Regions from separate parts of the Homo sapiens genome. Here region 1 is linked to region 2. Evidence: fine-mapped expression QTL. A gene starts in region 2. The other region holds a variant in brackets. All regions are shown on one strand. Distances are between the middles of the regions.

Evidence for each region.
Region 1: its variant is fine-mapped to the expression of PDGFA in whole blood (INTERVAL, PIP above 0.99).

Annotation. Positions count from the first base shown.
Region 1 is chr7:478,559-493,962 of GRCh38, reverse strand. No RefSeq gene overlaps it. Among named protein-coding and RNA genes, the nearest start is that of PDGFA, 34 kb to the left of the region's middle. RefSeq lists enhancers at 1,764-2,543, 2,544-3,323, 13,523-14,043. The variant G/A (reference allele first, on the strand shown) is at 7,359.
Region 2 is chr7:512,910-528,313 of GRCh38, reverse strand. PDGFA (platelet derived growth factor subunit A) reads left to right here and starts at 8,468. Exons shown (of 6, transcript NM_033023.5): 1 at 8,468-9,375; 2 at 10,824-10,920. The coding sequence starts at 9,313. PDGFA-DT (PDGFA divergent transcript) reads right to left here and starts at 7,923. Exons shown (of 3, transcript NR_033963.1): 1 at 4,998-7,923; 2 at 4,034-4,234; 3 at 3,082-3,460. RefSeq lists silencers at 5,364-5,673, 5,994-6,133, 6,254-6,333, 7,999-8,338, 8,439-8,528 and 3 more and enhancers at 5,989-6,910, 8,755-9,676, 10,599-11,521, 12,191-12,692, 13,068-13,362.

The DNA of each region.
Region 1 (15,404 bases), 34 kb after region 2:
CAGCCCGGGAGGACGTGGGTCCCCAGAGCGCCGAGGCGGGAGGAGAGTCCCGAAGAGCATCCGCGAGGGGTCGCCAGCCGGGGAGAGTGGTGGGGCCTCTGAGCCGGGAGGGGGCCGAAGCGTCTCCCACGACCTCGGCGCGGTGCCTGGTCTCCGCGGGGTCCGGCTTCCCGGTGCCCCCTTACCCTGCGCTTCTCCAAGCTGACAGCCCCAGGTGTGGGGCCTGGGGTGGGGCCTGGCATGGCCTCGTGCCTCCTACTCTTAGGTCCAGGGGTGCCATGAACCACCCCCCAGCCCTGCCGCGGGATCGTCCCCCAGTGTCCAGGGGACCCGCCTGCCTCGCCCAGCCTTTCTTTTCTTTTCTTTTTTGAGACGCAGTCTGGCTCTGTCGTCCAGGCTGCAGTGCCGTGACACGATCTCTGCTCACTGCAACCTCCGTCTTTCGGGATCAAGTGATTCTTCTGCCTCAGCCTCCCGAGTAGCTGGGACTACAGGCACTTGCCACCACGCCGGGCTAATTTTTTTGTATTTTTAGTAGAGACAGGGTTTCACCATGTTGGCCAGGCTGGTCTCCAACTCCTGGCCTCTGGCGATCCTCCCGTCTCGGCCCCTCAAGGTGCTGGAATGAGAGGTGTGAGCCACCGCGCCAGGCCCCACCTTTCACTTTGGCTCCATCCGGAGTCCTGGGATCCGCTGGGTCTGAGTCCCATGTACCGTTTCTGTTGTGGGATAGATTTCCATCAGAAGCACAAGACAGAAAATGGGGGAGGACGGGGTTTCCCGAGGAAATCGGGGTGCCGTTCATAGATGAGGCTACTAAGTGGGATGTTGGGGGTTGCCTTGGCCTGGGTGCCCCAGAGGCAGAACCTGAAGGACAGAGTTGTGGGCATATGGTTTACGGGAGGGCAGATACCAGCAATACAGGGAGGGGCTGGGGTGTGAAATGTTCAAGTGGGAGACCTCACTGAATCAGCTCCGGGCTCCAAATCCTGAGACCTGGAGCCTGCACACATGAATGCCGGGAGGTTCCAGGATCCCCCCAGAGGCTTGGAGAAGGCCTGGGCAGGAAGCCAGGTGGCAGCAGCAGGAGCTGAGCAGAGGTGGGCAGGAGGATACATGCAGCCCGAGGGCAGATCCCGTGTATGCATGGCCCCAACTGCTCCGGGTCCTGCACCAGCCTCCCCATGGCTGGCTGCTTCTCACCTGGACAACCTTGTCGCCCACCCATCTGCGTGCCATCTTCAGCCACCTGCTCTCCCAAGAGCAGCCAGGGTTATCTTCTCCAAACCCAAGGCCACCTTGCTCTCCCCACCCCTCCTAGAGCCCCTGCTGCTCTGTAGGCTTAGAACAAAGTTGAGAAGCTTCCAGGGCTCCGGGCCCTGTCTGACCCTGACTGTCCCAGTCACACCCTGGCCCCTGTCTGCCACCTCATGACCTCAGCTGAGCTGGCTTTGTCGTGGCACAGGGGAACCGGAGCAGGGGGGCTGCCCAGGCTGAAGGAACGGGGTTGAAGCGCAGGACTTTTCTGATGGGGCGGCAGCTGGGAAAACGGAGTGAGTGGCCGGGGAGGGCTGTTTATGGGATGGCCGTCTGCAGGGCCTTGGCAACCAGAGCCCCCCGTCCAGACCTCCAAGCTTGCCTGGTGACAGGGCCCGGTGTGAGCTGGACCACAGGTACTTGGTAGGCCTGGTCTGGGTTGGGGTCAGGGAGTCAGAGTGCTTGGGAGACAGGTGCCCCCTCCCAGGTTCGGCCAAGCATGGGGTGAGAGTACTGGGCTCTGCTGGGCTCTGCCCAGCTGTTTGATGTTGGATGACCTCACTGTGACCTTGGGCTGCACCACTGCCCTGGTTGGAAGAGAGGGAGGCTCGGTGGGATGGGCTGAGCTCCAGGACCGCCAACCCTTACCCCCCTTTGCCCACCTGTGAGTGGCTTCCCTGATGGAAAGACTGAGTGAGAGGACTCCTTAGTGGCCGGCCCTTGTAGAGGCACAGAGCTGCAGGAGCTGTGGTGAGGGCCGGCACCATGAGACCTCTAGACCCCAGGCTCTTGAAGCGTCCCTGCCTGCCCTCCCTGAAGGACTTCCCAGGCCACCTTGCCCTGCCCAGCGCTGGGGGCTGAGTCCTTTCTGGGCACACCAGGTCACTTGGCAGAGTCCCTGGCCCCGAGCGGGCACTGAAGGAGGCCCTCGCACTTCTGGGGGCCCTGGGTCTTCGCCGTCAGCATTTGAGGCTGCTCCCGTTCTCCCTGGGGTGGGAGCCGGGACCCAGCGGGGCCTCAAAGGTGACTGCAGCAAGCGGGAGTTGGCCTGCCCCCTGGACTCCCACCCTGGCCTGGCACAGCTGGAGTCCAACCCCACTCCCTGAGGGTACTCAGATGAAAAGCGTGTGGTTTCTACAGAATAAAACAGCCACTGTTTCTATCCCGGCCTTTGAGCCACCAAAAAATGTGCAGTATTTATGATCCGGCCCCCGGTCACCCAGCCACGCACCAGCATCCGGCGGCTGAGGCCCCTGCTCGCCCCTCCCTGGGTGGTGGAAGCCATCCCGGGCCCTTCTGGTTTCTGAGCTGGAGCCTGGTGGCCCCAAGGCCCTGGACATGGGGCTCCACCAAGGCCCTTAGTCGTCTGGTGTGCAGGACATATAGACAGACAGAAACACCCCTCCTTGACTCTGACTTCTAGGCAACCCCAGTCAGGCAGGGAAGCCCATTGCAGGCCCTAGACCCAGGCTGCAGGAGCCACTGCCGACAGACCCCCCCATCCCCTGCGGGCCACAGAGCACCAGCTGCAACCCCCATCTGTCTCCCTCAGGGGACTCTGGGAGGAAAAAGCCCAGAGCACACACGAGGCAGGACCAGCCTCACAGCCCCTGTCCCCCACTAGGGCCATTGGTGCCAGTACTGTGACACCCCTTCCGGAGAGGGCTGGGAGATGTGGCTGTGGGGCAGAGGCTGGGTTGGGAGCCCCATTCTGGCACTTTCTGCTGCCCTTCCATACCTCCTTGCCAGGGAGGCCTGGCTGGGAATCTTTCCATCTAGGTGCTCCCAACACTGAGGCTTCCTTGTCCCTGCTCAGCCCCAGCAGGTCCCCAGAGGCGTCTGGGGAATGGCGCAGGTATCCCCCCACGTAGTCCCCAGCACGCCTGCCCCAGGGGTTCCGAGGTCTCACTGAATCCCCAGGGAGGGGTCAGCGGTCGGAGCTTTGGGTCTTTCCCTACAGCTGCATTTCAGAAGGGAATGCAGCCGCTCTGGCGTGCCGGGGCTTGTGGTCCAGAGAGGCAGCTGCCACCTGGCGTGGGAGGCTTCTCAAGCTTGTCAGGCAGAGACTCATAACTCAGTGGTGAACCCCACCTGACCTCAGGACCACCTGCCTGTCTCTAGTCCAGGCTCTGCCCTGTCCTGGGCTCCTCTGGACCTCCTGGCACAGCCTTGTGCTACTCAGCGTCCACTGGCACGGTCGACTCCCAAATCCCCTCCCCCAGGAACCAAGAGCTAGGACTTGTCTACACAGCCAGACCTCCAGCCCTGATGGATGGAAAAGCCTAGACCCTGCACTGTGGATGTCAGGGAGGACTTATGGCTACTGGGTCTCAAGAAAGTCACTTGTTTATTTTTATACGTATTTATTCATTTGAGACAGTATCTCTCTCTGTCGCCCAGGCTGGAGTGCAGTGGCGCGATCATGGCTCACTGTAGCCTCGACCTCCTGGGCTCAACTGATCCTTCCAGCCTCAGCCTTCTGAGTAGGTGGGACTGGTGTGGCCTCGGGGCTTCTCTTTGTTGCCCGGGTTGGTCTCAAATTCCTGGGCTCAAAGGATCCTCCCACCTCAGCCTCCTAAAGTGCTGGGATTATAGGCAAGTGCCACTGCACCCTGCCGAGAAGTTAATTTGTTTGTTCATTCTTGGCTCAGCAGAGAGTTGCATACCAAAATGGCTCAGTGAATTGGCCTGGTGCAGGAAAGGGAGGGGTGTTCTGAAGGTCATTTCTGCTCATGGGGGGTCAGTGACCTTCAGCAGAGCCTCACCCCTCTCTGAGCCACAGTTTCCTCAACTGTAAGGTGGTTGAACTGTTGGATTAAACCAGATTAGACCAGAGTTGCTCAGAATTTTGTACACAAGATGCATTCATGAAGGTTTGTGACTATGATATTTTTCTAAGAGTTTTATAGTTTAGTTCTCATATTTAGGTGTTTGATCTGCTTTCAGTTAATTTTTGTATGTGGTGTGAGGCAGGGGTCCACCTGCATTCTTTTGTATGGTGGAAATCCAATTGTCTCAGCACGATTTGTGGAAGAGACTCTTCTTCCCCACTGAATAGTCTTGACACCCTTGACAAGTCAATCAACCATGAATGTATAGCTTTTTAAATGAACTCTCAGTTCTATTTCATTGATCTATATGTCTCTCCCTATGCCTTGGGTCTTCATTACTGACATTGTGGTAAGTTTGAAATCCAAAATTGTGAGTCCTCCAGCTTTGTTCTTTGTAAAAACTGTTTTCTTTTCATTTATAATTGCCCTGGCTAGAAAGTACCTCCAGTAGAATGTTGACTAGAAGTGGCTGAAGCCGACATCTTTGTCTTGCTCCTGATCTTAGGGGAAGAGTTCTAAGTCTTTTGCCTTAGCTAGCTGTGGGTTTTATGTAGATGTCCTTTATTAGGGTGAGAAAGTTCCCTTCTATTCCTAGTTGTTGAGTGTTTATTTATTTTTGTTATGAAAAAATATTAGATTGTCCTTTTTTTGCATCAGTTGAGATGATCATGTGATTTTTATTTTTATTCTGTTAATATGGTATATTACACTGATTTTTTTTTTGTATGTTGAACCACCTTTGCATTCCTGGAATAAATCCCACTTGGTCATGGAGCACAGTCATTATTTTTGTATGTTGCTGGATTTGGCTTTTTAATATTTTATTTATTTAATATTTTTATTTATTGAAATTTTGTGTGTCTATACATGAGGGATAGTAGTCTGTAGTTTTCTTGTGATGTCTTTGTGTGGTTTTGGTGACAGGTTATGACTGGCTTCACAGAATGAGTTCTTTCCTCTTCTATTTTTTCAAAGAGTTTGGGAAGCATTTGTGTTAATTCCTTTTTAAATATTTGGTAGCATTCACCAGTGAAGCCATCTGGTCCTGGGCTTTTCTTTGTAGGAAGTTTTTTGATTACTAATTCAATCTCTTTGCTTACTATAAGTCTTCATATTTCTTCGGGCCTCTTTTTCTTGAGTCAGTTTGTGATTCTAGGAATTTGTTCATTTCATCTAGGTTATCTAATTTCTTGGCACACAATGTTCACAGCATTCCTTTATTATTTTTATTTCTGTAAGGCTGATACTAATGTTCCCTCTTTTCATTCCTGAGTTTAGTAATTTGATTATTCTGTCTACTTCTTGGTCAGTGTAGCTAAAGTTTTGTCTATTTTATTTTTTTCAAGAACCAACTTTTGGTTTTGTTAATATTCTCTATTGTTTTTCTACTCTTTATTTTTAAAATTTATTTCCCCCGTAATTTTTTTTTTTTTGAGACAGAGTCTTGCTATGTTGCCCAGGCTGGTCTTGAACTGGGCTCACGTGATCCTCCTGCCTCAGCCTTTCAAGTAGCTCTCTAATCTTTGTTATTTCATTTTTCTGCTTGTTTTGGGTTTGGTTTGGTTTTTTTTTCCATTTTTTAAAAGATGGAAGATTAAGTTATTGATTTGACGTCTTTTCTTTTTTATTTTAAAAAATTAGGAGTTTCTAGCTATAAATGTCCCTCTAAGCACTGTTTTAAGCTGCATCCCATAAGCTTTGGTAAGTTGAGTTTTCTTTCATCTCAAAGTATTTTCTGGTTTTCGCTGGGATGTCTTCTTTGACTTATTGGTTATGTAGGAGTGTGTTGTTTAATTTCCACATATTTGTGAATTTCATAAATTTTCATCTATTAATGATTTCTAATTTTATTTCATTATGGTCAGAGAACATACTTGGTATGATTTTCATTATTTTGAATTTATTGAGACTTCTTTTATGGCCAAACATATGGTCTATCCTGGAGAATGTTTCACGTGCACTTGAAAAGAATGTGTGTTTCTGGATGGGCGCAGTGGCTCACACCTGTAATCCCAGCACTTTGGGAGGCCAAGGCAGGCGGATCACTTGAGTCAGGAGTTTGAAACCAGCCTGGCCAACATGGTGAAACCCTGTCTCTACTAAAAATACAAAAATTAGCCGGGCATGGTTGGGCATGCCTGTAATCTCAGCTACTCAGGAGGCTGAGGCACGAGAATCGCTTGAACCCGGGAGGTGGAGGCTGCAGTGAGCTGAGATTGCACCACTGCACTCCAGCCTGGGTGACAGAGCGAGACTCCATCTCCAAAAGAAAAAGAATGTGTATACCTTTATGGTTGAATGGAGTGTTCTGTAGATGCACATAAGATCGAGTTGGTGTATGATGTTGTCCAGGTCTTCTACTTGCTGGTTGATCTTTGGTCTAGTTGTTCAATTTCAATTTGTTTTTGTATATCGTCCTTAGATCCTGCAACCTTGCTAAATTCACTTATTAGTTTTAGTAGAATTCTTTTGAAATTCCTTTGAGTTTTCTACATACATGATCATGTTATCTGGAAATAAGAACTGTTGTATTTCTTCTTTTGCATTCTGTATGCCTTTTATTTCTTTTTCTTGCCTTGTTGTACTGGCTGGGACCTCCAGAACAAATAGAAGTGACAATAGAATGGGCAATCTTGCTTTATTCCTGTTATTAGCTAGAAAGCAATGAGCCTTTCAACATTGAGTAAGATGTTAGCTGTAGCTGTTTTGTAGATGCCTTTAATGAAGTTGAGGAGGTTTGCTTCTCCTATTAGTTTTCTGAGAGGGTTTTTTGTTTTTCTTAAATCATGAAAAGTTGTTGAATTGTGTCCATTTTTTTTGCATCTATTGCATTTCATTGTATGGTTTCTGCATCTGTTAAAATTACCATGTGATTTTTTTTTACATAATTCTATTATTGTGAATTACATTGATTAGTTTTTCAAATGCTACATTAACCTTGCATTCCTGAGATTAACCCACCTTGGTCATTAAATACGTTTCTTTTTATATTGATTCTACTTGTTAATCATTTGTTAAGGATTTTTGTGTCCATGCTTAAGTGGGAAATTGTTCTGTAGTCCTCTTTTCCTGTGGTGTCTTTGGTTTTGAATCAGGGTTTTTGGAGAGTCACAGAAAGTTACAGCCACACAGAGACAAACACATAGACACAAAAACACATGGAGCACCACACACATTCACGTACAGGCACACACATTCACATACAGGTTCACACATTCACACACAGGCTCATGCATTCACACGCATTCACATGCAGGCACACTCACTCAC[G/A]TGCAGGTCCACACACAGGGACACACATTCACACACAGGCTCACGCATTCTCACGTAGGCACACGCATTCACATGCAGGCTCACACATTCACACACAGGCTCATGGAGTCACACGCACACACATGCTCACACAGGCATACACAGTCACACGCAGGCTCACGCAGGCACACGCAGGCTCATGCAGGCACATGCAGGCTCACATATTCACATGCCTCACACACAAGCGCGCCTCACACACAAGCACATGCATTCACACACAGGCATACACATTCACATGCAGGCTCACATAGGCTCACACGGGCACACACATTCACACACAGGCACGCACACATTCACACACAAGCTCACACACAGGCTCATATAGACACCCTCGAGGATGCTTCAGTCCGACGCGGAGTCAGGAGAGCTCGGACTCACTGAGGACCCTGCTATGGTCTGCAGCTGTGTTCATTTATCAGCTGGGACAGTGTGGGGTGCTCCTTGGACGCTGTCTGTTTCTCCCGCTCTGAGAAGAGCCCTGCCCCGGTTACGAATCCTTCATGACCGTGATTTCTGCCGCTTCCCGGGAGTCATCAGGGTACAGGGATCCCGCCTCCTGACAGTGCCCTTCTGCGGCCCTGTCCCTGTTCTGTGGACGAGGACACAGCCATCCAGGGGTGGAGCCGTGCATTCCAGGGCCCTTATCCTGTTCAGCCACCCCTCCCTCCCACAGCGTCCCCTCCCTGCCCCACCTGGCATTGGCCCCAACCCCCAGCGCCCTTCTTGGTGGCGGGTGTGGACTGCACAAGCTTGTGGCGATGGAAAGCTGGGCTGGGGCCAGACTTGGTGAGAGGCCACGAGAGCTGGCACTGAGGGGCCCTCGCAGTGGGATGCCCTGCCAGGCTTCTGGGGCCATGTCCCTCCTGTGGCTGTCCAAGCCCCACAGATGGCGATGCAGTGTGTACGTCCTGCAGCTCCTCGTGGCCTGGCGAGTCACAGCCTGTCCTGTGTTGATTTTGCTGCTCAGCAAGGGATGTGGGCAGATAGTGTCACAGTTATTTATCAGGAGGCAGAGAACCCCTGGCAGAAGTGGGTCTTGGGGAGGCTAGACTCACTAGAGCCCCAGCCTGGGAGCTGTGGCTTGCTGGCCTGCAACCGTGGACCCCAGCCCCTGGGGGCCCTGGAAGCCTGTTTCTCCATGATCAAGGGCCGTTTTTTGCGAGTGTTTGCAAGGGAGGAAGGGCTTCCTGCAGGATCTTCCCGTGTGATGTCTCTATGGGCTTTCTCCTGGGACAGGGACCCATCAAAGGTGGGAAGGGAGGGTGGTGCTGTCCGGGGAGGTAGGTGAGGGGACCACAGTCTGAGGTCCAAACTGCAAAGGGTTCACCCCGTAGCCTCCTCCCTCCTTCATTCCCTCCTTTCTTTTGTTCTCTCCCTCCTCACCTCTCCATTCGTTTTTTTGGAGCTACTGGGGCTGGAGCCGCCTCCTGGGATTGTGGCAGCCTTGGAAGATGGGTCCTCCAGTGAGAGCCTCGGGGCTGGGAGGAGAGGCCCAGGGTGCCGCAGTCCCAGTCCCAGGGTCATGGGGGGCCCTCGAGCGCGGGGGACCCTGGGGCCTCTGTGCAAGGGATGGCTCTGGGGCCCTGTGCTGATGGAGGACTCTGTGTTTACCTAATGAGGGGGTGCATGGGGGTTGGCAAACAGCCCTTGACTGCTGGCGGAGGCTGTCGGCTTGGGTGGCTTCCAGAGGCCCCTCAGCCCTGCATACCTTCCTCCCGGGCTCCAGTCCCGCCTCCCCCACCTTCTCGAACACAGACCTGCAGCGACCCTGAACAAAAGGAAATCCCTAAAGCTAATGTCCATGGGGGCTGGTGGGAAGTGAGCAAGAGTGGGGGTGGGGTCAGGGCCCTCGGAAGCAGGGGTCATGCGGGAGTGGGAGTGTCCCCCTGCCTGCCCCAAGCCCAAGGGGAAATACCTGAGTGAGCCCTGGCCCGTAGGAGGCGTGTGAGGAATGTTCCAAAAATCCTAGGCTGAGTGAATGAGGCCCTCACCCAGGCAGGGTCTAGGGCCAGGGACAGAAAGGCTTGTCTGAGGACACACTGGGAGCCAGCCCGTCTTTGGGTGACCCCAGACGTCACCCCAACCTGGATTTCCAAACCAGGTCCCCCAAGGCTCTGGCCCTGAGCAGGTGGAGGAGGGGAGGGGCAGGCAGACACAGTGTCGGCTTGGGGGAACGGGGTTGGGGGTACGGCAGAGGGACGGTCCCACATCTAGAGGCCAAATTCAGGACAGCCTAAAAAACACCCTCCGGAAAAGGCAGCCCAAATCATCTCATGTGCTTCTGAAATTCTTGCATTTTCCCCCTCAAAATCTGTCCTAGTTATGCTTGAGATCTCCTGACCCCAGAATACTTTTATTTATGACAGAAAATTCATCTCCATGGCAACGCCTTAGGAAGCTGCAGCCTCAAGATTATAACTTCCCAAGCAATGAAGACAATAAATGGATTTTTCACAAAACGGCTAAGAGCGACTCTGGCAAGAACCGGCCCCTCTCTGCAGTCTGGGGAGGGGGGGTTGGAGTTGAGAGGGGTGAGGGGACAGAAGGAGTCCCTAGGGCTGAAGTAAAGCCCACCAATGTGGTGGGTCTGAGGGAGGAAGCTTCACATTGTCTGTGTTCCGGCTTTTAAAGAGCAGCGCACTTAACCCCTTCGTCAAATCAAACATGACCCTGGGTTGCCCTAGAGGCCCTGAGCGAGCATCACCACATCAGGCCTGGCAGGCGCCTGCACACTGCAGTGTCTGAGCCCCTCAGCCACCTCCAAAGCACACATTTGTGCCTTGTCTTCACTGTCTGAGAAACAGGCATGGAGGATGAAGGAGGTCTCCTTGTCCCAGGGAACCACAGGAGCCTCTCTCTGGCAGCCTTTAGGGATCCAAGGCTGGAAACCCCTTTGCAAATAGCTTGGAGCAGCTTTCCAGGCTCAGCCCAAATTCCACAGTGAGGGGGCAAGTACTGGCCAGTTCCAGCAGAGATACTTCCTCAAATCAGATGGTGCGCATTGCAGGGGCCTCAGTTGGACATCAAGGTGGAGCCATCCCCCTGGTCCTAGTTCCTGTCATCCATCCATCCACTCATCCATCCATCCATCCATCCATCCATCCATCCATCCACTCATCCATCCATCCATCCATCCATCCATCCATCCATTTTTTAACCCATACCCGCGTATTTCACCGCCAGTCTTCCCATCCCACCCATGTTGTGCAGCCCCTTTGTCCATGATACCGAGGCTGTCCCTTTATCCCCGCCCGCCCAATATCCCACGGGTGGGGGGGCCAAGGACTGGCCCAGGTCCCCGCCAAAGTTCTTCCTCAAAATCAGGATGGACCCATTGGCAGGGGCCTCAGTTGGATATCAAGGTGGAGCCATCCCCCTGGTACTAGATCCTCTCATCCACCCATCCACTTATCCATCTATCTATCTCTCTATCTATCCATCCATCCAACTATCCGTCCATCCATCCATCCAGTCATGTGTCCAACCATCCATCCATCTTCTATCCATCCATCGAACTATCCACCCATTCATCACTTACCCATCCATTCACTCACACATCCATCCATCCATCCATCCATCCATCCATCATCTATCAGTCCAACCAACCATCTATCATCCATCCAAGTATCCACCCACCCACCCATCCACCCATCTGTCCAACCATCTATCATTCATTCAACTATCCACTGATCTACCCATCCATCCATCCATCCCTCCATCCAGTCAGTCATGTGTTCAACCATCCATCCATCTATCATCTATCCATCCATCAAACTATCCACCCATTCATTCACTTACCCATCCATCCATTCACACATCCATCCATCCATCCATCCATCCATCCTTCCATCCATCAATCCATCCAACCATCTATCATCCATCCAACTATCAACACACCTACCCATCCACCCAACTGTTCCAACCATCAATCATTCATCCAACTATCTACTGATCCATCCATCCATCCACCTATTTATCTGTCCATCCAATTATCCACTCACTCACCTACACATCCATCTACCCATCATCTACTTACCCTTTCACCCTTCCATCCACTCATCCATTCATTCATCTATCTAACAATCTATCATCCATCCAACTATCCACCCACTTGCCTACCCATTCACCCATCCGTTTATCCAACCATCAATCTGTTCAGCCGTCTATTATTCATACAACTATCCACCAATCCACCTATCCATCCATCCATCCACCCATTCATCCATCTATCCATCCATCTATCCATCCAACTGTCCTCCATCCAACCATCCATCCATCCATCCATCCATCCATCCATCCATCCATACAACATAAGTTCTTGAGCACCTAACAGGGACCTGTCACTCTGCCAGACACCATGAATTTCTTGCCTTCCTGGAGCTAACCATTAAGAGGGAAATTTAGACATTAATCATACACAAAAAGGAACATAATCGTAGACTGAAGTAAGTGCCTGAAGGAAATGACAGCAGTGACTAGTGCTGCTTGGGGGCAGATGGGGTGTTAGATGCTTTAGGTTTTAATTCTCACAACCACCCATGGGTAGGTGCTGCCAGAGACCTATGCTTCAAAAATGGAGAAGTTGAGGCACAGGCTCAGGAAGGATCTTACACCAAATCTTGTAAGTGGAGGAGTCAGAATGTGAACTTGGCCCTTCTGAGTTTTTAATCTCTAGGCTATTCTGCCTCTCAGGTGGGTGGGGAGGGTCCATAAGGGCCCCTGATCTGGTCTAGTGGGATCTCTGGAGACTCCCCACAGTGTTATTGAACCCAAGGACCAGCAAGGGATGCAGGTGAAGCACAGAGAAGGTGGCACGCAGGAGGACCACCGCATGGGTTGTGCTCATTCAAGGCAGGAGGGCACTAAGAAGCAGGACCAGCCCCAGCGGTGGGGAGGGGAGGGTGGGGAGGGGAGGAGGTTGGGGAGGGGAGGAGGGTGGGGACAGGAGGAGGGCGGGAAGGGAGGGAGGAGGGTGGGGAGGGGAGGAGTGTGGGGACGGGAGGAGGGCTGCCCACCGTCCTGGCCCCCCAGAGGCACCAAGCCCTGCAGATGAGCTGCGCATGAGAAGGAGAGAGAGATTTATTAAGAGCGGTTCGCCGTCAGTATCCAAACCTTCACAAGTTAGACAGAGTCGGTCTTCACTGGAGGGGGCATTCCTGGGCCCAGCTGCTCTTCAGAGCCTGCTGGAAGCAATTAATTAGCGGGACCAGGTACCTGTGTCCTGCCGGGCTGGCCCCACCTCGGCCTTCCTCTGGAGCTCCTGCAGCCCCAGGGAACCTGTCCCCAGCTCACGGATCTGAGATCTGCAGGGGCTCACACTTAAACTGTGGTGCCCTCTGACCTGGCCTGATTTCCATGGGAGCCCATGGCCTGAGGGGAGAGGAAGGACAGTGCCAGGCTTCGGAGAGGGGCTGTTTTCTTTTCAGGCTCCCTGGAGCCCTGGCCAGCTGCCTCCCCTCCCAGGTTCCACCTGGACTCCTCCCTGCCCTCCGCAGGGCCCTGCCTGGCCCTCTTTTCCTATCAATCAGAAAACAGCGACCTGGCCTGCACCTGACACTTCCTCCATCTCCCCTGGGCCTGGCCTCGGGCTCCTCAGCAGCCCTGGATTTGGCCTGGAGCCAGGGGTCTGGGCAGAGGAGAGTGCTTGCTCGGGACGAGGAGAGGCAGTTCAGGGCCTGGAGGGGACTGGGTGAGCTCAGCCTGGGGCTTCTCCGGGAGGCTGGCAGCTAGAGAGTCCTGTCTCCAGGGGCAGACATGCACACAGGGAGAGATAAGCTTGCGGTCAGCAGCCATGCGAGCCCCGGGAGTGCCTCCTGTCCTCACCAGGGTGGTGGTGGGGGCACCAGAGGTCCCAGCCCCCATGCTGCCCCACCCTGATCCTCGGCCTGCGCTCGCTCCTTGCCCTGCCTGCCTGAGCTGCCCCTGCCTTGGCTCCCAGGGGCTGTTGGGCCCATCTGCATGGCTGCCCCCCACCCACAAGCCCCCTCCTTTGGAGAAGCACCTGTCAGTGTGAGTCTAGGGCTGGGACCTCCCGGGGCTCCTTTTTGGGTTCCCTGGGCGATTGCACCCCAAATGTTGTTTCCTAGGTCTGAGGGAGAGAGGTTCTCTATCTTGCTGCTCAGATGGCCCTGGCCAGGTAATCTCTCTCCTAAGCTGGGGGTGGGGGCACTGAGACGGCATCTCAGGGCCTCTTCCTCCCACTCTGCTGCCTCCAGGAACTGAGAACAGCGCCCCTGCCCCCCAGGGCTCTTGCCCTCGGCCGTTTCACCGGAGCACACAAGTGCTCACAAGCTCGGCAGTGACTAAAAGCCAGGAAGGGCCGGGGAGGCCGGGAGCCTTCTGGATGGACCCCGTGTTGGTGAGGCTGACAAAGCTCTGGGCTGAGCCCCACACTCCTTTCCTGACGCTCCGATTTCAAGGCTTCTCTTAGATGGGGCCGCTTTCTAGGAAGGGAGGTTGGGGGGTCTTCCCTGCCCGCTGGCCGGGGGAGGGTGGATGTGAGTGGCCAGCCCAGCACCCCCAGCGCCTGTCTCACCTGGAGCTGGCTTGGCCCCAGTACTGGCTTTCTGGAAAACAAACCTAACTTGAAATCCTTGGAAAAGGGTGCCTGGTGCAGACCACCCTGCGTCACTGCCTGGAAACCATGACTGGGGAGGGGCACCCTCTCTGGGGGTCCTCAGAGCCGGCAGAGGCTGACTCGTGGCTGAGGCTTGGCTCCGGCTCCGGCTCTGGGGTCGCCTTCTGTGACCCTCCAGCTGATGGTGGTGGAGGCAACGGTAGCAAAGTTTTACAAAGCTCTTCCCAGCCCCTGGTGCTGTGGACTGGGCCGCTGACGCAGTTGGTGCCGTATCACCCTCAGTTCCCAGACGAGGAGTTGGAGCTTTGCTGGGTCTCGTGTGCAGGGGGCAACAAGGGAAGGAGCGGCCCACCCAGCCCTTTCCAAAGCTCTGTTGCTCTGTTTCCAAACCTTCGAGGCACCAGGTTTATTTATGTGTTTGCCTCTCCCATGAGGTTGTAAACACCATGAAGAGAGCAAGGATGTCTTATGTGCCTCTGTCACAGATTTTCAGAGCCTGGCACAGAGCCTGGCAGAGTAGCTGTTCCCACATCAGCTAACGTTTCATCAAAGAAGATCCGCTGACAGCACGGGAGCGAATGGAAGGATGTTTCACACCAGTTGCCATTAGGAGGACATAAAGTAAAGCCGCAATCAGACACCACTACCTGGCCATCAGACGGACAAATAAAAAATACTGACCATACCAATCCCTCCTCCCCTCTTCCCTCCTTCCCTCCTCCTTCCCTTCCCTCCTCCTTCCTCCTTCCCTCCTTCCCTCCTCCTTCCCTTCCCTCCTCCTTCCTCCTTCCCTCCTCCTTCCTCCTTCCCTCCTCCTTCCCTCCTCCTTCCCTTCCCTCCTCCTTCCTCCTTCCCTCCTCCTTCCCTCCTCCTTCCTCCTTCCCTCCTCCTTCCTCCTTCCCTCCTCCTTCCCTCCTCCTTCCCTCCTCCTTCCCTTCCCTCCTCCTTCCTCCTTCCCTCCTCCTTCCCTCCTCCTTCCTCCTTCCCTCCTCCTTCCTCCTTCCCTCCTCCTTCCCTCCTCCTTCCCTCCTCCTTCCCTTCCCTCCTCCTTCCTCCTTCCCTCCTCCTTCCTCCTTCCCTCCTCCTTCCCTCCTCCTTCCCTTCCCTCCTCCTTCCTCCTTCCCTCCTCCTTCCCTCCTCCTTCCTCCTTCCCTCCTCCTTCCTCCTTCCCTCCTCCTTCCCTCCTCCTTCCCTCCTCCTTCCCTTCCCTCCTCCTTCCTCCTTCCCTCCTCCTTCCCTCCTCCTTCCTCCTTCCCTCCTCCTTCCTCCTTCCCTCCTCCTTCCTCCTTCCCTCCTCCTTCCTCCTTCCCTCCCCTTCCTCCTTCCCTTCCCTTTCCTTCCTCCCTCCCCCTCCCTCCCTCCTTCCTTCCCTCCTTCCTTCCCCCCCTCCTTCCCTCCCTCCTTCCTTCCTTTCTTCCTTTCCTCCTTCC
Region 2 (15,404 bases):
TCATCTATGCATCCATTCATCCACCATGTATCCATCCATCCATTCATTATCTATCCATCCCTCCATCAATCATCTATCTATTCATCATTTGTCTGTCCATCATCTATATTCCCCTCCCAACCATTTGAAAATAAGCTGCAAACATCATGACACTTTACCCCAACTGCCATGGCATCACCCAAGAACAAGGAGGTCCTCCTGCACCACCATCACACCATCAGCACACCCAAAGGACTCAACAGTGATACAATAAAGTAATCTAATATTTCCCCAGTGGTCCCAATCAGCTTTTGAGCTGCCTGCTGGTTTGAATGTGGGAGTCCATCAAGAATGGAACATGGCATTGAGTTGTCAGGTCTTTTAAGTTCCTGTTAGTCTAGAACGGTCGCCCTCTGGTGCTTTTCTCATGGCAATGATGTTTTTGCAGGTCAGGCCAGGTGTTAAGTGGAATGTGTCTCAGTCTGGGTTGTCTCCTTGTTTCCTTGAGGTCCGATCAGGGCTAAACATCTTTGGCAGGAATGTGGCAGGGGATGTGTGCCTATCCTTGCTTCACGTGGTACAAGTTTATCCCTGAACCTTTTAATATATATATATAAACTTAATTTTTAATACATCTGAAGTTAGTGTGGGGTAAAATGAGGATTTCATCAGATTTTTTTTTTTTTAGAACAGCTTCAACTGCATTTAATCCACAATCCTTTCAATGTCTTTTAAAATTCTTCATTTACAACAGAGCCTTTTCTGGGGTCTCTGGTCACATGGGTGCCACACTGTTCTGATTATTGTGGCTCTAAGATATGGTTGGCCTTGTGGTGGCTCACGCCTGTAATCCCAGCACTTTAGGAGGCCAAGACAGGCAGATCACTTGAGGCCAGGAGTTCAAGGCCAGCCTGGCCAACATGGCAAAACCTTGTTTCTACTAAAAATACAAAAATTAGCCAGGCGTGGTGGCACCCTCCTGTAGTCCCAGCTACTCGGGAGGTTGAGGTGGGAGAATCGCTTGAACCTGGGAGGTGGGCATTGCAGTGAGCTGAGATCGTGCCCCTGCATTCCAGCCTGGGTGACAGAGAGATACCCTGTCTCAAATGAATAAATAAAAGTACAGTATGCTTAACCTTCCTCCTCCCCCTCCCACCCACATACTTTCTTTGTTCTAGAAGTTTCTGTGCTTCCCATGCATACATGCATGTGGCTTTCTGGCTGCCCCTCTCTCTGGCCGCGACAGGCCACTTCCTTTCTCTGCCCCATGAGCTCGGGTCCCCTCCACCTCAGCCCTGCTGGTGAAGGTCAGATTTGTGCTTCTGCTCAAGGGAGGTGCTGGTCACCCCGATTTGGGGTCTTTTCCATGGGGCAGGGCCGGCGTCTCATCCTCTTCCCTCAGCAGAGGCCGAGGAAGGTCAGGGGCGCGGGGGCTTGGCCTGGCTCCTTCGCCTCTCCCGATGTCTAACCTGCACCTTTAGACAGCGGTGAGGCCCTCAAAACCGGATGGAATGAGGGACCACAGGCTGCTCCCAACCATCCACGGTCACGAGAGGAACAGAGGCTGTGGGCAGCGCCCAGGGGAAGCGCTCTGGGGTTGGCCTGGGCTTTAACCGGGTGACCCCAGTGACCTGCCGGATGACTCAGGCCCACGCCTGCCCCACCTTGGAACTCGGAATTCACATCCAACATGCAGGAACTTGGGCCTTGAGTCTGAAGCCCTTGGGGATGGGAGGGGTTTGCGGCTTTGGCCTGGGAGGGGCAGTGGTCACTAAAGTTCAGGCTCCCCAATGCCCTCACTCCCTAGCCCCGCTCGGCCTGGCTGCTTCTCAAAGCTCAGTCTGCCCAGCCAAAACATCTACTCAGAAAACGTCTCTTCCCAGCCAGGCCTCCCCCTGCAGGGGTTGGAGAGAGGAAGGGAGAGGACACGGCGAGGCGGGGAGGGAAGTGGAGAGCAGAGGCCCTTGAGGACCTGTCCTCTCCCACTCCCTTCCAGCTGCCCTGGGGGGTGACTCTGTTTCTACGGGAGCCATCTGGGTCTCTATTTCTGTGTCTCCACGCAGAGTCCGCAGCTCCCAGGGAAACAGGCCCCGGAGGACAGGGGTCTGGGTTCAAATGTCACCACCACCACTACTTGTAATGTCAGCCTCCTCACCTGTAAAATGCAGGTGTTGGATGTGATGGCCTTAATTTCTAGGTGAGATCAAGATGCTTCCCTGGTTTTCTCTGACTGCACAGGACTGGAGATGCCCCCTGAGAAGCCCAGCTGGCTGCCAACGGGAGCTCTGGAACAGGGAAGGATCTGTGGGCACGGTGGAGAGACGGGGCTGACTCAGCTTCCGAGTTGCTTTCTTGCTGTTTTAAGAGCCAGACCCAGTGGAGGCAAGGAGCATAGCCCGAAATAGCGACGGCGGGAGTGTTTACACCCCAGCTATTGGCAAGTGCTAAGAATTGAGTTGTCTGCAGCTGCCAGGAACCTGCTGGGCGTTTCGGAAGCCTTACCTCGTGCACTCTTCTTACGGTCTCCACTGCAGCCATCTGGAAGCCCAGCCACCCTCATATGTCACCCAGATGACTGCACACCTCCCTGTCCTCCTCCAGCCCCTTCTCCATGAGGGAGCCGTGTGAAACCACGAAGCAGTGTTAGAAGCTGCCTGTGCACACACTGGCTCTCCCTCTGTCCGGGATGGAGTTTCTGCGTCCCCTCCTCCAGAGGCCAGGAGGGCTGGGGACAGCTTAGGCTGAGAGCGTACAGAGGTGTGGTGCTGCGCACCTGTACTGCTAGATCTGGAAAGGGTGTATTGCCTCCACTGTGGGCGTGGGAGCACGAACACAAAGCCCTCTGCCATCCCAGAGGCAGCTTGACCCTGGAGGCCTCCATGCTGTAAGGAAGCCCATGCTGGCCCCCAATAGGCCACGAGACGGAGTTGAGCCCACCTGAAAGTGGGGGATGCAGGCCAGCCCCCCTGTTCCCCCAACCTCACCGCTCCCCCATGACAGCTGCAGCCACCAACCCTGACTGTAGCTGCAGGACAGACCCTGGGCCTGAACCCGCTGGCTGAGTCCACCTTAAATTCAGTATGCGAGAAATGGAGACAGAATAACACAATTATTGTTTATTTATTTAGTTTTGAGACAGAGTCACTCTGTCACCCAGGCTGAGTGCAGTGGTGTGATAATAGTTCACTGCAGCCTCAAACTCTTGGGCTTAAGCAATCCTCCTGCCTTAGTCTCCCGAGGACCTGGGACCTTAGGCACATGCCACCAAGCCTGGCTAAGTTTTAGGGTTTTAGTAGAGACGGGGTCTTGCTGTGTTGCCCAGGCTGATCTTGAACTCCTGGATTGAAGCGATCCTCCTGCCTTGGCCTCCCTCCCAAAGTGCTGGGATGACGGGTGTGGGCCACCGTGCCCGGCCCCTTCTTCCTTTCTGCCACGACACCTTGTGTTCCTGCCTGAGGCCCTCCAACGGCTTCCACTGCCCCTAGAATAAAATCCAGAGCCTTCCTTTGGTCCCAAGGGCAAGCGATCTACCTCCTTGTTCTGTGAACAAGCCACGCTGGTTCCCGCCCTGGGGCCTTTGCACCTGCTTTGTCGTGTCGGCCTGGAGTGCCTGACCTAGATGTTCTAGCTGTTGTCAATTGACTTCTTCTCAGACTCCTCAGACAAGGCCTTCCTGACCTGGGCCTGAAATCCTTTGCCTGAAGGGCTGCACTCGCGCGCTCTCTGACTTATTGTTCCTCCTCAGAGAGTGAGGGCTCCGTGAGGGCCTGGTCTTAACGCCGTGTCCCCAGCACTTAGTACAGTGCCTGGCACATAAACCTGTGCTTCAAGAACGTGTAGATATTTCCTAGAGCAACCCTCTGAGCTGGCTGTGGCCCAGAGGAGCAAAATGAGCCTCCGGGAGGCTGACAGCGAAAGTCATTGTAATCATGTTTATTTAACACCATATATCCAAAATGTTTTTTTCAACCTGAAATTCATACAAAAATTCCCAATTGAGAAATTTTGCATTCTTTACTAAGCCTTCGAAAGCTGGCATGTGTTCTGCCCTTACCGCACTGCACAGTTTGGACTGGCCACGTCTCTCGTGTCCAGCGGCCACACGTGGCCATCGCTCCTGGGCTGGATGGCTCTGGTCTAGCTAGACTCTCGGCTTTCGTTTCTTGAAGCCTCCAAACATCCTTTCATACATGTCTTCATTCACAAAATGTTCACACAGTGATAGTGGGCTCCTGTGCTATTTTCAACTTCATTTCTGTTTGTGTATTTAAAATAAAATGATTTAATAGGGAGTTAAAACAACATGGAGAGAGAGCCTTCCCACCCTGCTGGCGGGGCAGTTATCTCCCTTTCTGGAGAGTGTGAACTGGAAAGGCCTGATCCCTAGTCGCTGGGGGCCTGAGATAATGACTTAATTAATGCCTGCGCTGGGCAGTTTTGATCTTCAAGGAGTCCAGCCCACTCGGCTGGTGTTGCTTTTGGATTAATTGCCTAGGACGAAGAAAGCCTTGCCCAGAGATAAAGGGAAACGTGGGGTTTCGTCATTACAAATTGTTCTGAAATCTGCTCTGGCGCTGGGGGCAGAGGCCAGGATTTGGGTGCTCAGCTGGTCCCCCCACCCCCAACCCAGGTGCAGGCAGGTGGCCAGCAGGGCGCTTGCCCAGGGCACGCTAGCGCAGCTTTTCCTGGGCAGGTGGGCAGGAGGGAGGCTTCCCGACAGTGGAGGCAGCTGTGTGCAGTGACGGCAGCTGTGTGCAGTGACGGCTGTGGGCCTCACGCTTTTCAGATGAGGGAACAGACACCCAGGGCAGTCTAGGGACAGAGCTCACCAAGGCCAAGGTCAAGGGGCAGAGAGCGGAGGGAACTGGCCTCTGCCCCCCTCCCTGCACCTTGGAACTGGGGATCCAGGGGGTGTTGGCTGCCGCCCCTACTCCTGGGTGGCCACAGCGTCTTTCCTGTTCCTGCCTGTACACCCCACGTACAAATGCCCCTGCGAATTGAGGATAGTCTATATTTACCGAGGTTGCAGAGGTACCCCTGGGGTGCTGAGCCCCGCTCCAAGTCTTCGCTTAGAGTTGATGCGTGAGTGTCCATGAAATTATACAAGGAAAGAGCTTGGCACCTGGCGCCATCGACGTCGCTGTAAATGTCAGCCGTTACTACTACTACTAAATAACAACGACGGCGATCGCTGCGTGCCTGCTGGTGCCAAGCCCCGGAGGGGCCCCGGACACGCAGCCTGGGTGGGGATGGGTATGAGGGGGCAGCGCTGGACTCGGCGAAAGTTTCTTCCCCTCTCCAGTCCCCTACCCAGAGGAATGGCCAAGGCCTTTCCCGCCCTCCCTGGGTGCCAGGGTCTTGGGGAGGGGCGGGAGGCAACCAGTCCCGGGCAGACGTCCGGCCACCCGCCCCTGCTGCGCGACGGCCCCCCTCGCTCGGCCTATTTGGGGCACCTGACTCACGGTAATTATGAGCCCGCGGGCACGTCGGGGCGCGCCGGGAGAGGCCGGATGCACCGGCTCCGGGGGCGACCGGACATCCCAGGCCGCCAGGTGCACCTTGCTTCCCACCAGCACCTCCCCGCACCCGCCGGGAGCTCCCCGCTGCTTCCGCCAGGGGCCCCGGGCTCACCTCGGGGCGCCCACGGACTCCCAGACGCGCGCCTCAGCATGGGGTGCGAATGTTTCGGGGGCGGCGCGCGGGGCGCGTCTGCCTCCCGCACAAAGCCAGGCTCTGTCCCGGGGTCAGCGCCTCTGTCTCCCGGGCCTGGGCGGGGACGCCCACGCCTCCTCCGACGCGGGAGTATATTTAGCCTCATTATCAAATGTTTGCAGTGAACTGTGTGAACCGACTAATAGCGGCTGGAAGTGAAACTCGATTCCTGGCCAGAAAGAAGCATGTGACCGCCCCCGTCTGCAAGGATCGCGGCAGGGCGGGCGGGGCAGGTGCCGCAGCCTCCGCGCGCAAAACCCGCCGGCGGGGCCCGGGTCGCACCGTCCCCTCCTGGGCCGAGCACCTGAAACCCACCTCGTCCCTCCGTCCCCCTCCCCAGGGGCTGCAATGAGGACGCTGGGAGTTTGAATGGAAACGAAGGCCGGGGAGGGGGGTCCGCGCGGGCGTGGGTTTTTTATCCAAGTCGGTGACCTCTTGGTTAAGTCAGCCCTGCGGTTTCAACGCCCAATCCCCCCAAAAAAGCCTGTGGGGGTCCACGTCTCCTTGTGTCTTCCGGGGATCCGGCGGAGAATGTGGCGGGGCCGGGCAGGGGGGTCCCAGTCCCACGCCGGGTGCGTCGTGCCCCGAGTCTCCCCAGAAGGCGGCTGTCGCGCGGCTGCACAAGTTTTCGCCTCCCTCGCGCGGCCGCTGTTGTTGTGGTCGCCATGGCGACGGGTCGCGGTTTTATTTTTAATAGCGGCCGGCGATTAGAGAGATGCCTGCACCGCTTTCGCCTAAGCTCTGCGTCCCCCGCGGGTGAAGCACCCACGCCCCGCCCCAGCCCCCGCCTCGCTCCAGCGCCCCTTGCACGTCCCCAGGTGGCCCTAAACTCTAGCTGGGCGCACCCGTAGCTCCAGGCCGGGCAGGGGAGCCGAGGGAAGCAGCCATCTAGGCCCTCAGAGGCGGCGAGGACCCCCAGGATCCCTCAAGCTGGGAGGGACGGGTACCCCATCCCCAATACAACGCGACCTTCCTCCTTGCCTTCCACACCGTCTTACCGAGTCCTCTAACCCCACAGAGGTGTCCTCGGGCCCCCTCTGCGCGCGAGCAGTCCGAGGCCCAGGAAGACAGGATGCGCGCCACTCCGGGATAACTGGCCGAAGAATGAGGCCGGGGTCCGGCCTGCGTCCTGGCCCTGCGAGTCCGGCTCTTTCCAGAAGCCATGCAGTGGGTGTCCCCTCCCAAGCCGCAAGTTCCCCCTGGAGGGACAAGGCCTGGCTTTAAGGGGCTCCTCCACGTTTCCAAGGCTCCCCTGGTTCTGTCCCGGTCCCGCTTGGTCCTGACCACCCAGAGGGCATGCTTGACCGCGGGGGTCGTGGTGTGGGGCTGCGGCCAACGGAAGGGAGAGACGTGGGGAGGGGGCCTGCAGGTGTGTGGAAGGGCGCGTGTAGACGCGACCCACTGGGAGCGGAGGGAGAGGCGTCGCTCCCCAAATATTTGGGGGAAGGGGAGAGCCCCCGAAGCGCTCTCCGGATTCGGCCTTTGAAATGCTAGAGCTGGCCTAGCTGGGGATGAAAGACCGCCCGCGGGGCTGCGCCTTAACGGCCTTTGTCTGGAGGGAGGGCGACCGCGACGGGGGCAGGGGTTTAATCGACAGGGTTGGGGGTGACGGCTGGGCCGGGCGGGATTCTCCGCTGCTCACCCAAGGAAGCGTCTCCTGGGCTCCAGGGGCCTAGGCCGTCTAGCCTCGGGGTCTGCACAGCACGCCACCCCGCTGGACCCGGTACCAGGACGCGTAGACCCCCTGGCAGGGCACTGACGAGCACCTGGACCTGTAGTCAGGGTCCAATCCCTCCTGGTCTAGGGAGGCGAAATCCATCCAGCCCAGGCGCACCCGCCCTTTCTCGGCGTGGGAGCCGTCTAGCCACGCTCAGACCTCGGCCTCCGCGCGCGTTCCTCCCCCGCATCGCGCTCTGAGCTGCGCCTCGGCCGGAGGTGGCGCTCTGTGCGCCCCACGGATCCCGACGCGGGAGGCTCAGAACCCGGGGGACCCTCACCGGTGGCTCCTTTCCCTTCCATCCCCTCGACTTCCCGGCTCAGGGCGCGGCCCTGCCTTCGGCGCGGGAGTGGGGGACTGGGGGGCGCGGGGTCCCAGGGTGGGGACGAGGCGGGCTGCAGGCCCTTTCCCCGACTGGAGCTCGCTCCCAAGTGGAAATGTGGGTGGAGGGTCCTCATTCAGATGCCCCAGGCCTCGGATCCTGGGCGGGGGCGCGTGGCAGCCGCCAGGTGAGTGCCCCAAACCCGCCCCCCTCCTTCCCCAAAGACTGACTCCCCCTCCTTTTATGGAGAGAGGAAGGCTGGGGCCCTGGATCCGAACCGTGGAGAGCGGCCGGAGCGCCGGGGCGGGGGCGGGGACCGGCTCTCTGGCCCTTTTTGGCGCAGCAGCTCTGGGCGCTGCCCGCTGCCGCCGCTGGGGCCCGAGAGAGGCGAGCCGGCGACGGCGGCGCTTCTGCGGCGGCCTCCTCCCTCCCCACCCGGTGCCGCAGGATTGCAGCTGGCACTGGAGGGTGGGCAAGCTCGAGGGAGGGGCGCGGAGCCCCGGCGCGGAGCCGGGCGCGGGGCTTTGATGGATTTAGCTGCTTGCGCGAGCGCGTGTGTGCTCCCTGCCGCGGCGGCGGCGCCCGGGCCCTGCCGGGTCCGCACGAACCCCGAGCGCTTCCGAGGTGCGGGTCCCAGGCCCGGAATCCGGGGGAGGCGGGGGGGGGGGGCGGGGGCGGGGGCGGGGGAGGGGCGCGGCGGCGGCGCTATAACCCTCTCCCCGCCGCCGGCCGGCTCCACACGCGCGCCCTGCGGAGCCCGCCCAACTCCGGCGAGCCGGGCCTGCGCCTACTCCTCCTCCTCCTCTCCCGGCGGCGGCTGCGGCGGAGGCGCCGACTCGGCCTTGCGCCCGCCCTCAGGCCCGCGCGGGCGGCGCAGCGAGGCCCCGGGCGGCGGGTGGTGGCTGCCAGGCGGCTCGGCCGCGGGCGCTGCCCGGCCCCGGCGAGCGGAGGGCGGAGCGCGGCGCCGGAGCCGAGGGCGCGCCGCGGAGGGGGTGCTGGGCCGCGCTGTGCCCGGCCGGGCGGCGGCTGCAAGAGGAGGCCGGAGGCGAGCGCGGGGCCGGCGGTGGGCGCGCAGGGCGGCTCGCAGCTCGCAGCCGGGGCCGGGCCAGGCGTCCAGGCAGGTGATCGGTGTGGCGGCGGCGGCGGCGGCGGCCCCAGACTCCCTCCGGAGTTCTTCTTGGGGCTGATGTCCGCAAATATGCAGAATTACCGGCCGGGTCGCTCCTGAAGCCAGCGCGGGGAGCGAGCGCGGCGGCGGCCAGCACCGGGAACGCACCGAGGAAGAAGCCCAGCCCCCGCCCTCCGCCCCTTCCGTCCCCACCCCCTACCCGGCGGCCCAGGAGGCTCCCCGCGCTGCGGGCGCGCACTCCCTGTTTCTCCTCCTCCTGGCTGGCGCTGCCTGCCTCTCCGCACTCACTGCTCGCGCCGGGCGCGCTCCGCCAGCTCCGTGCTCCCCGCGCCACCCTCCTCCGGGCCGCGCTCCCTAAGGGATGGTACTGAATTTCGCCGCCACAGGAGACCGGCTGGAGCGCCCGCCCCGCGGCCTCGCCTCTCCTCCGAGCAGCCAGCGCCTCGGGACGCGATGAGGACCTTGGCTTGCCTGCTGCTCCTCGGCTGCGGATACCTCGCCCATGTTCTGGCCGAGGTTGGTGCCGCCCCCGCGCCCCGTCCCTGCGCCGGCTCCTCCGGCGCACACCCCCCGCCGGCTGGGGCGCCACGGGCTCTGCAGAGAGCGTTTTGGTTCCTGCCAGGGTGGTCGATGTTTAGATTTTCCCAACTGGGTTCTATTTTCTGCCATGCCTAAGTGTGTGTGGGGAGTTTCCAGCGTGTTGCGTCGGTCGCTCTGCCTCGGGGGGACCGGGGAGCAGCGAGGTGGACGAGTGGGCAGAAACTTCGGGGGGCGCAGTGTCCTCTCCGGGGAAGGGGAGCTGGGGCGCAGCGGGCGCTGCAGCAGCGGGGTGCGGGGAGCGGGGAAGGGGGTGTGTGTGAGCCGGCGGAGCCTGGGGAGGAGAGAAGGGCGGCGGATAAATAGGTAGGGGCGGCTGCTGCGGAAGCCCCTGGCCGGGCAGGGTGGGCAGCGCCAAGCTGCAGCCCTCGGTTCCCAGTCCCCAAGCCCGGCGGGGCTCAGGGCCGGCGCAGTCCCGCCCGCCCGGGCCTGCTTACAGGTGGCTGAGCGAGGCGAGCTGGGGCTGGGCCAGGCGTCCGCACCCTCCCACCGCGGCGTCCCCGCCCCCCCATCCCCATCCCCATCCCCATCCCCGGGAGCTTTGCTGTGATGAATGACTTTCCACAGCCCCCGTCGTGGGAACTTAGTGCTTCAGGCTCCCCAGCGACCCCCGACTCTCCTTAAAAATCGGGGAGGGGAGTGGGGGAGGCCAGAGGTGAGGGTGGTCTCCGCAGGGCACGGAGAGCTGCGCGAGGTGGAAGTTTAACCCTCGCTTTCCCTGGAGGCTTCTTCTCCCGGCCGCCGGCTGGATTTGGGCGTCTTAGTCGGCGCTAGGGCCGCGGCTGGGCCGGAGCCCGGGGTGGGGCGAGTGTGTGAGTGAGATGTGTGTGCGCGTGTGTGTGTCTGCGCGCGCGTGCGTGTGTTTGTGAGACGGAGAGACCTCTCCACGGGTTCGGCCCGGGATTCCGGGGCGTGAAATTTAAGCCCTGCCTGGATTAAAGTGTTAGGGCTGCCGTGACTCTCGCCGACCCGTGACGCATTTTAACTTGATCTTTCTAGATGTTGATCTCACTATTAAATCAGAAACTTTCGGCCCCCTCGCTGCCCCCTAGACCTTCTGTAACTGACACCCCGGGTGGAGGGGCCGGAGTGCGGGGGCTTTTGTCTGAAAATATAAAGGGGGGGGGGCTTTGATTTTGCAAAGGGCGGAACATGGATGCGGGTGGAGAATTTGGGGTCTCTTCCAGCCCCACCCCCGGCTTCTGGTTCCAGGGCCGGGGCGAGGGCTCCGCGGGGGCTGGGGCGGGGACTGCGGCCGGCGCTCGCGGGGTCTCCTCGGGCCCGGGGCGGCGGCGCTCCTGGCGGCCGGGGGCGCGTGCCGGCGGGGTCGGGGCCGCGGGCGCTGACCGTGTGGCCTCTGCTTGCAGGAAGCCGAGATCCCCCGCGAGGTGATCGAGAGGCTGGCCCGCAGTCAGATCCACAGCATCCGGGACCTCCAGCGACTCCTGGAGATAGACTCCGTAGGTAAATCGCGCCCCTTCCCTCCGCGCGCGGGGAGGGCGCGGGCGGGCGGCCTGTGCGCCCCGAGCTGGGGCCGGGCGGGGCGCCGCGCAGGAGCGCACCGAAAGGTCAGAATCCAATCCCCAGCCATAAGCGCCCGGGCGGATGAGTCAGGAGTTTCTCTTCCAGTCTCCACTTTCTCTCCCAGCGGCGGCCGAGGGCTGCTCGCTCGCCCCGGGATTGTTTTCGCCTTTAAGGAAAACGCCGCGTGTGTCACACAAAGTTCAGCCGCGGCCTCCGCCAGGTGTGCGGGCCCCGCGCCTGCCCTCGGGCCGGGGGAGCGGCAGGATCCGGCCCAGACCCTGGGCGCAGAGCCCTGGCCCGTGCGCCGGGCGGGCAGCCCGCGGAGCGAGGCCCCAAGGGCAGGCGCGGCTCCCGGTCCGACGGGCGGGCGGGCGGAGGCGGCCCCCGGGTCAGGGCCCGGCCCCCTCTGTAATCCCTGCGAGCTGGTGCCGCGTTCTTGCCGCAGGGCTGGGCCTCTGTGGCTGCAGAAGCCGGTGTCTTTCTGTTTTCACGACCCAATGAAAAGCCTTGGACGCATCTGCTGCCTGGGGGCTATTTTTGCGGCTCACCCTCGGGCCCTGGGGCCGGGCCACTAGAGAACACAGCTTGTTTGCAAGCACAGAGTTTTGCTGCGGGTTGGCAAGGGTTAAAGGGGCCTCTCACCCCGGGGGACCCCGGTGGACCACGGGTGGGTGGGAGGGGCGAGGGTGTAGGGTGGCCGCCCGCCCGCTCAGGGCTAGAGAGCCCCTTCCTAGAAGGCGAGGTCTCTCTTCCAGGCGTGCGTGGCGCTCTTTTCAAAATGAGCACTCGGCCTGGGAACTCCAGTCGGAGCCTTAACCTGGTTTAAAAAGGGGCTCTGCGATGAACTTGTTAAAAAGAGTAACTAAAGGCAGCAGAATTGGAAGAAGTTACGTGACATGAAGATTCTTCTCTCCCTGCAAAGGACTCTGAAAAAGGGGGGGCATGCGGGGATTAAGTGAAATCACATGGTCTAGTCATTTGGAAATTTGTACCTAATTATGGTGGTGGAGAGGCCTGAACTATTTTCGTTTCATGCCAAAACCATTTTCTAACAAGGCCGATGGTTTCTGTAGTTTCTTGACCCAGGAAATCCCTGGGCTGATCCTTATCGGGGGCGGAGGGTGGGGGGTGCGGTAGAGTTTCACTCCCACAGCACAGCTGGGCGGGGGGATTTTGACCGGATCCCTCAGTGGATAACTCTAGGGAAAAGGATCTGGCTCTGGTTTGTGGGGGGGAATCCCTTGCCTGAATCTCGCTGGTCCTGGATGGGTTTGGAAAAGTGGGGGGGGGGGGCTGCTTCCTGGAGAAGGTTTCAGGGCTTTTTCTGGGGGGGGGTGCTAGCAGAAGGGGAGGCTTGTGGAGAGCTGGGCCTCCTCGTGGGACTGGCTTTGGAAGCTGCAGGGAAATGGGCCATTCACTTTCTGCTGGGACTATTCTTATTCTGGTCTTGGCGCCCCGCCTCCTCCACCCCCACCCATTATCGCCTTTAGCATTGCAGCTTCGTGGGGTATGCTGATGGCATTCCTCACCCGGGGGCTTCTAGGTCGTAGGGTCCGAACAGAAAAAAACAAGGATGCCCCTAAGCTAGTCCTGGCCGGTTTCAAATTCCCTCTGCAGTCATGTCCCAGGAGCTCTCTCCTCCTGCCCCAGGGAATGCAGAGTGGATCTCAGCCCTCCTGTGTCCGTGAGAGGTTTTGGGGTCTGAATAGGATTCTCCTAGTGTCTGGGAGGCTTTGTGTGTGAGAATATGGGGGTGGCATCTACCTCCTCTCTTGCCCCTGGTGGGGGACCTTTTGTAACATAGGGGGGCCTCCTTGGTCCTGTCCAGTCCCCTCCCCAGGTGTGGCTGAAAACAGAACCAGAGAAACCCACAGTCTCTCGCCTGAGGACAGGAGAGGCACCGGCTGCTCCTCCAGCTTGTAGGGGGTGTCTTTTCTTCAACTCCCGTTCTCTGTCGTAGGGAGGGTTGTAAACTGGTTGAGGTCAGTTCTCATTGGGTAAGCATCCCTCCGGGTCCTGGACTCCCTTTTCAATCCAGAGGTGCTTCTGGTCTGTTAGGGGCAGGGGACAGTGCAGGGGCTCATGAGGAAGGGGCTGGGTGCTGGGAGAAACCCAACGCAACGAACTTTCCCTCGGAGTCCCTTTATAACCCTTCCAGGCTGATGTTCTTGGCATTAGGTGCCTCTAAGGCCCACGCTGTAGGAAGCAGAAAAGAGGCTTTGAGGAATCCCAGGGGTGCGCCCCAGCTATGCTGACTCCTCCTCCAGGTGGGTGGGGCTTTGTGACTGGCATTTGGCTCCTCCCAGCATGCAGGCTGCGTCCCACTGTACAGTTGGGGAGACTGAGCCAGGCACCGTCTGGGGTCTTGGCCGCTCCTTGACTGTGGCTGGAGGAGCACGGGTAGTGGGATTCCTCACCATCCTCCCGGAGCCCAAGCGTTTCATTCGGAGGGTGTGCTGGAGTGAAGAGTGAAGGCTTTTCACCTGTGGCTTTTAGATCCAGAGGCCAGCATGTGGTCTTTTAATGACCGGCAGCCCGCGTTTAGGGCCTGTTTGTCCTGTGTGCAGTGGCAGCTGGGGAGCTTTGTTCCCCAAAGTGGTCTGGCCTGGCGCCCGTGGTTCATTGAGCGGCTGATAACGTAAATAGCCCCATCTCGGGCCAGTAATGCCAGACCAGGACTGATGGTTGGGAGATTCTCCCTGTCCTGGAGTTGTCCTTGGGACATCTGTGCCTAAAAGACAAAAGGGAAAGCCTCCTGGTTAACTGTCCTGGGAGCAGTTTTAGGGGTGATTCTTGCCGGCCAGGCCACCTGGGCCTGGGCTGCTCAGAGCTGTGTTTGGTGAGCTGTGGGCGGCTTTGGTGAGCGTGGTCCACTCTCGGCATCTTGAGCTGGGAGCAAAGGGTGGGCTTGGTAGACTGGGAGCTATTCCCCCTCTGTCCCTTGTCTCAAGAAATTTGCCAGCTCAGGCTTTCTGGGGGTCAATGAGCTAGCACGGCTGCCGTCTTCTCTGTTTATTAAGCCAGGGCTAGAGGGTGGCGGGGCACGGGGACTGTGCTCTGTGGACGCAGACCACATGAGTCTCCTGCGAGCCACTTCTGGTCCTGTTATATTTCTCTGGGCCTCAGTTTCCTCGGATGTGAAGAAGTGATAGCACCCACCGCACACTCAGAAGCTAAGTCATTGGTAAAGCAGCTAATGCAAACGTGGCTATCACAAGGCATCGGAAAATGGGAGCTGGTGTTATTGAATTTTCTCCTACGAGTGGAGAACGGACCCGTTACTCTTTGGTTTGGCCATGGCAAGATGGCCACCACCAGGATGTGATTCATAAGTGTCACTTTTTCATGAAAAGAAATGCTGCTTGTAACAGTTGGTTGATGGGAAATTCTTACTGCATGAGTAGTTCTGTTCTGATCTTATTTTGGGTCTCAAAAAAAATTAGTGTCATTGGAACATTGAGTCATTTTCGGTAAAAAGTTGGGCTCCGGGCGAGCTTCGTCTTTGCCTGACACCTTCTGTGAGGTTTGCGGGCTTCATTTTAAATCCGCAGGCTCCTCGGGGGTGCGGAGGAAGCTGAGGTTTCTCCGGTTGGTTTGTGGATAGTCACGGATGCCTCGATGGGCTGGGGAGAGACACTTTGGGCTGCTAGTCCTGAACCCAGGAGGTGCAGAGCCCATTAGCCGTCTGGATTGGTGACCGGGACTTCCCAAGCTTCCCAGGAGGGGGCAGGGAGATCTCTGTGCCTCTGGAGCATCCTGGCTGTGAGGCTCACTGTCTCCGCGCCTGTTCACCCTTGGTTATATGGTGGGGGGGGCAGGATGGAGGGAGATGGGAAGAGACTCCCCAGCTGGGACCAGGGGGCCAAGGCAAGGAGGCCCAGAGCCACCCGCGGTGCCCAGGTGCGGGCAGTGTGTCCATGGGCAGGACTGTGGGTCCTCTCCCTACTGCGGGATTTGGAGAGACCTGAGACTCCCCCAGCCTGTCTGCTGTAGCCGTCAGCGCCTGTGAAGGGGTGGTGTGTGCAGCTGGGTGGGGTGGCGGGGATAGGTTCTCAGTTCTGCTCCCCGGTCAGTGCTGGTCTTGGCTCTGGGCCACTGCCCCACCTGCACCTGGCCGCCTGGCTGTAAACACGGCTCGCAGATGCCAGCTTCTCTCAACCCCTCTCCGCAGGCCGCCTCCCTCTGTCAGGCTGCGGGAACTCCTCCGTGTAGCCTCCACGAGAGGCCACGTGCCCTCCTGCCTCTCCTCATGGCCGCTGGCCCTAGAGTAGACTCATTTCAGGAATGAGTGGGGTCTGGCCCGCAGCCCAGTCTGGCGGCTTCCAGTGCCCCTCAGAGGTTAGGCCACTTCTTCCAGGAGTGCTTTAGTGAGGGGGAGGGAGGGAGACGTACAGGCACCTGCAGAAATCTCAGCGGCCTCTGCT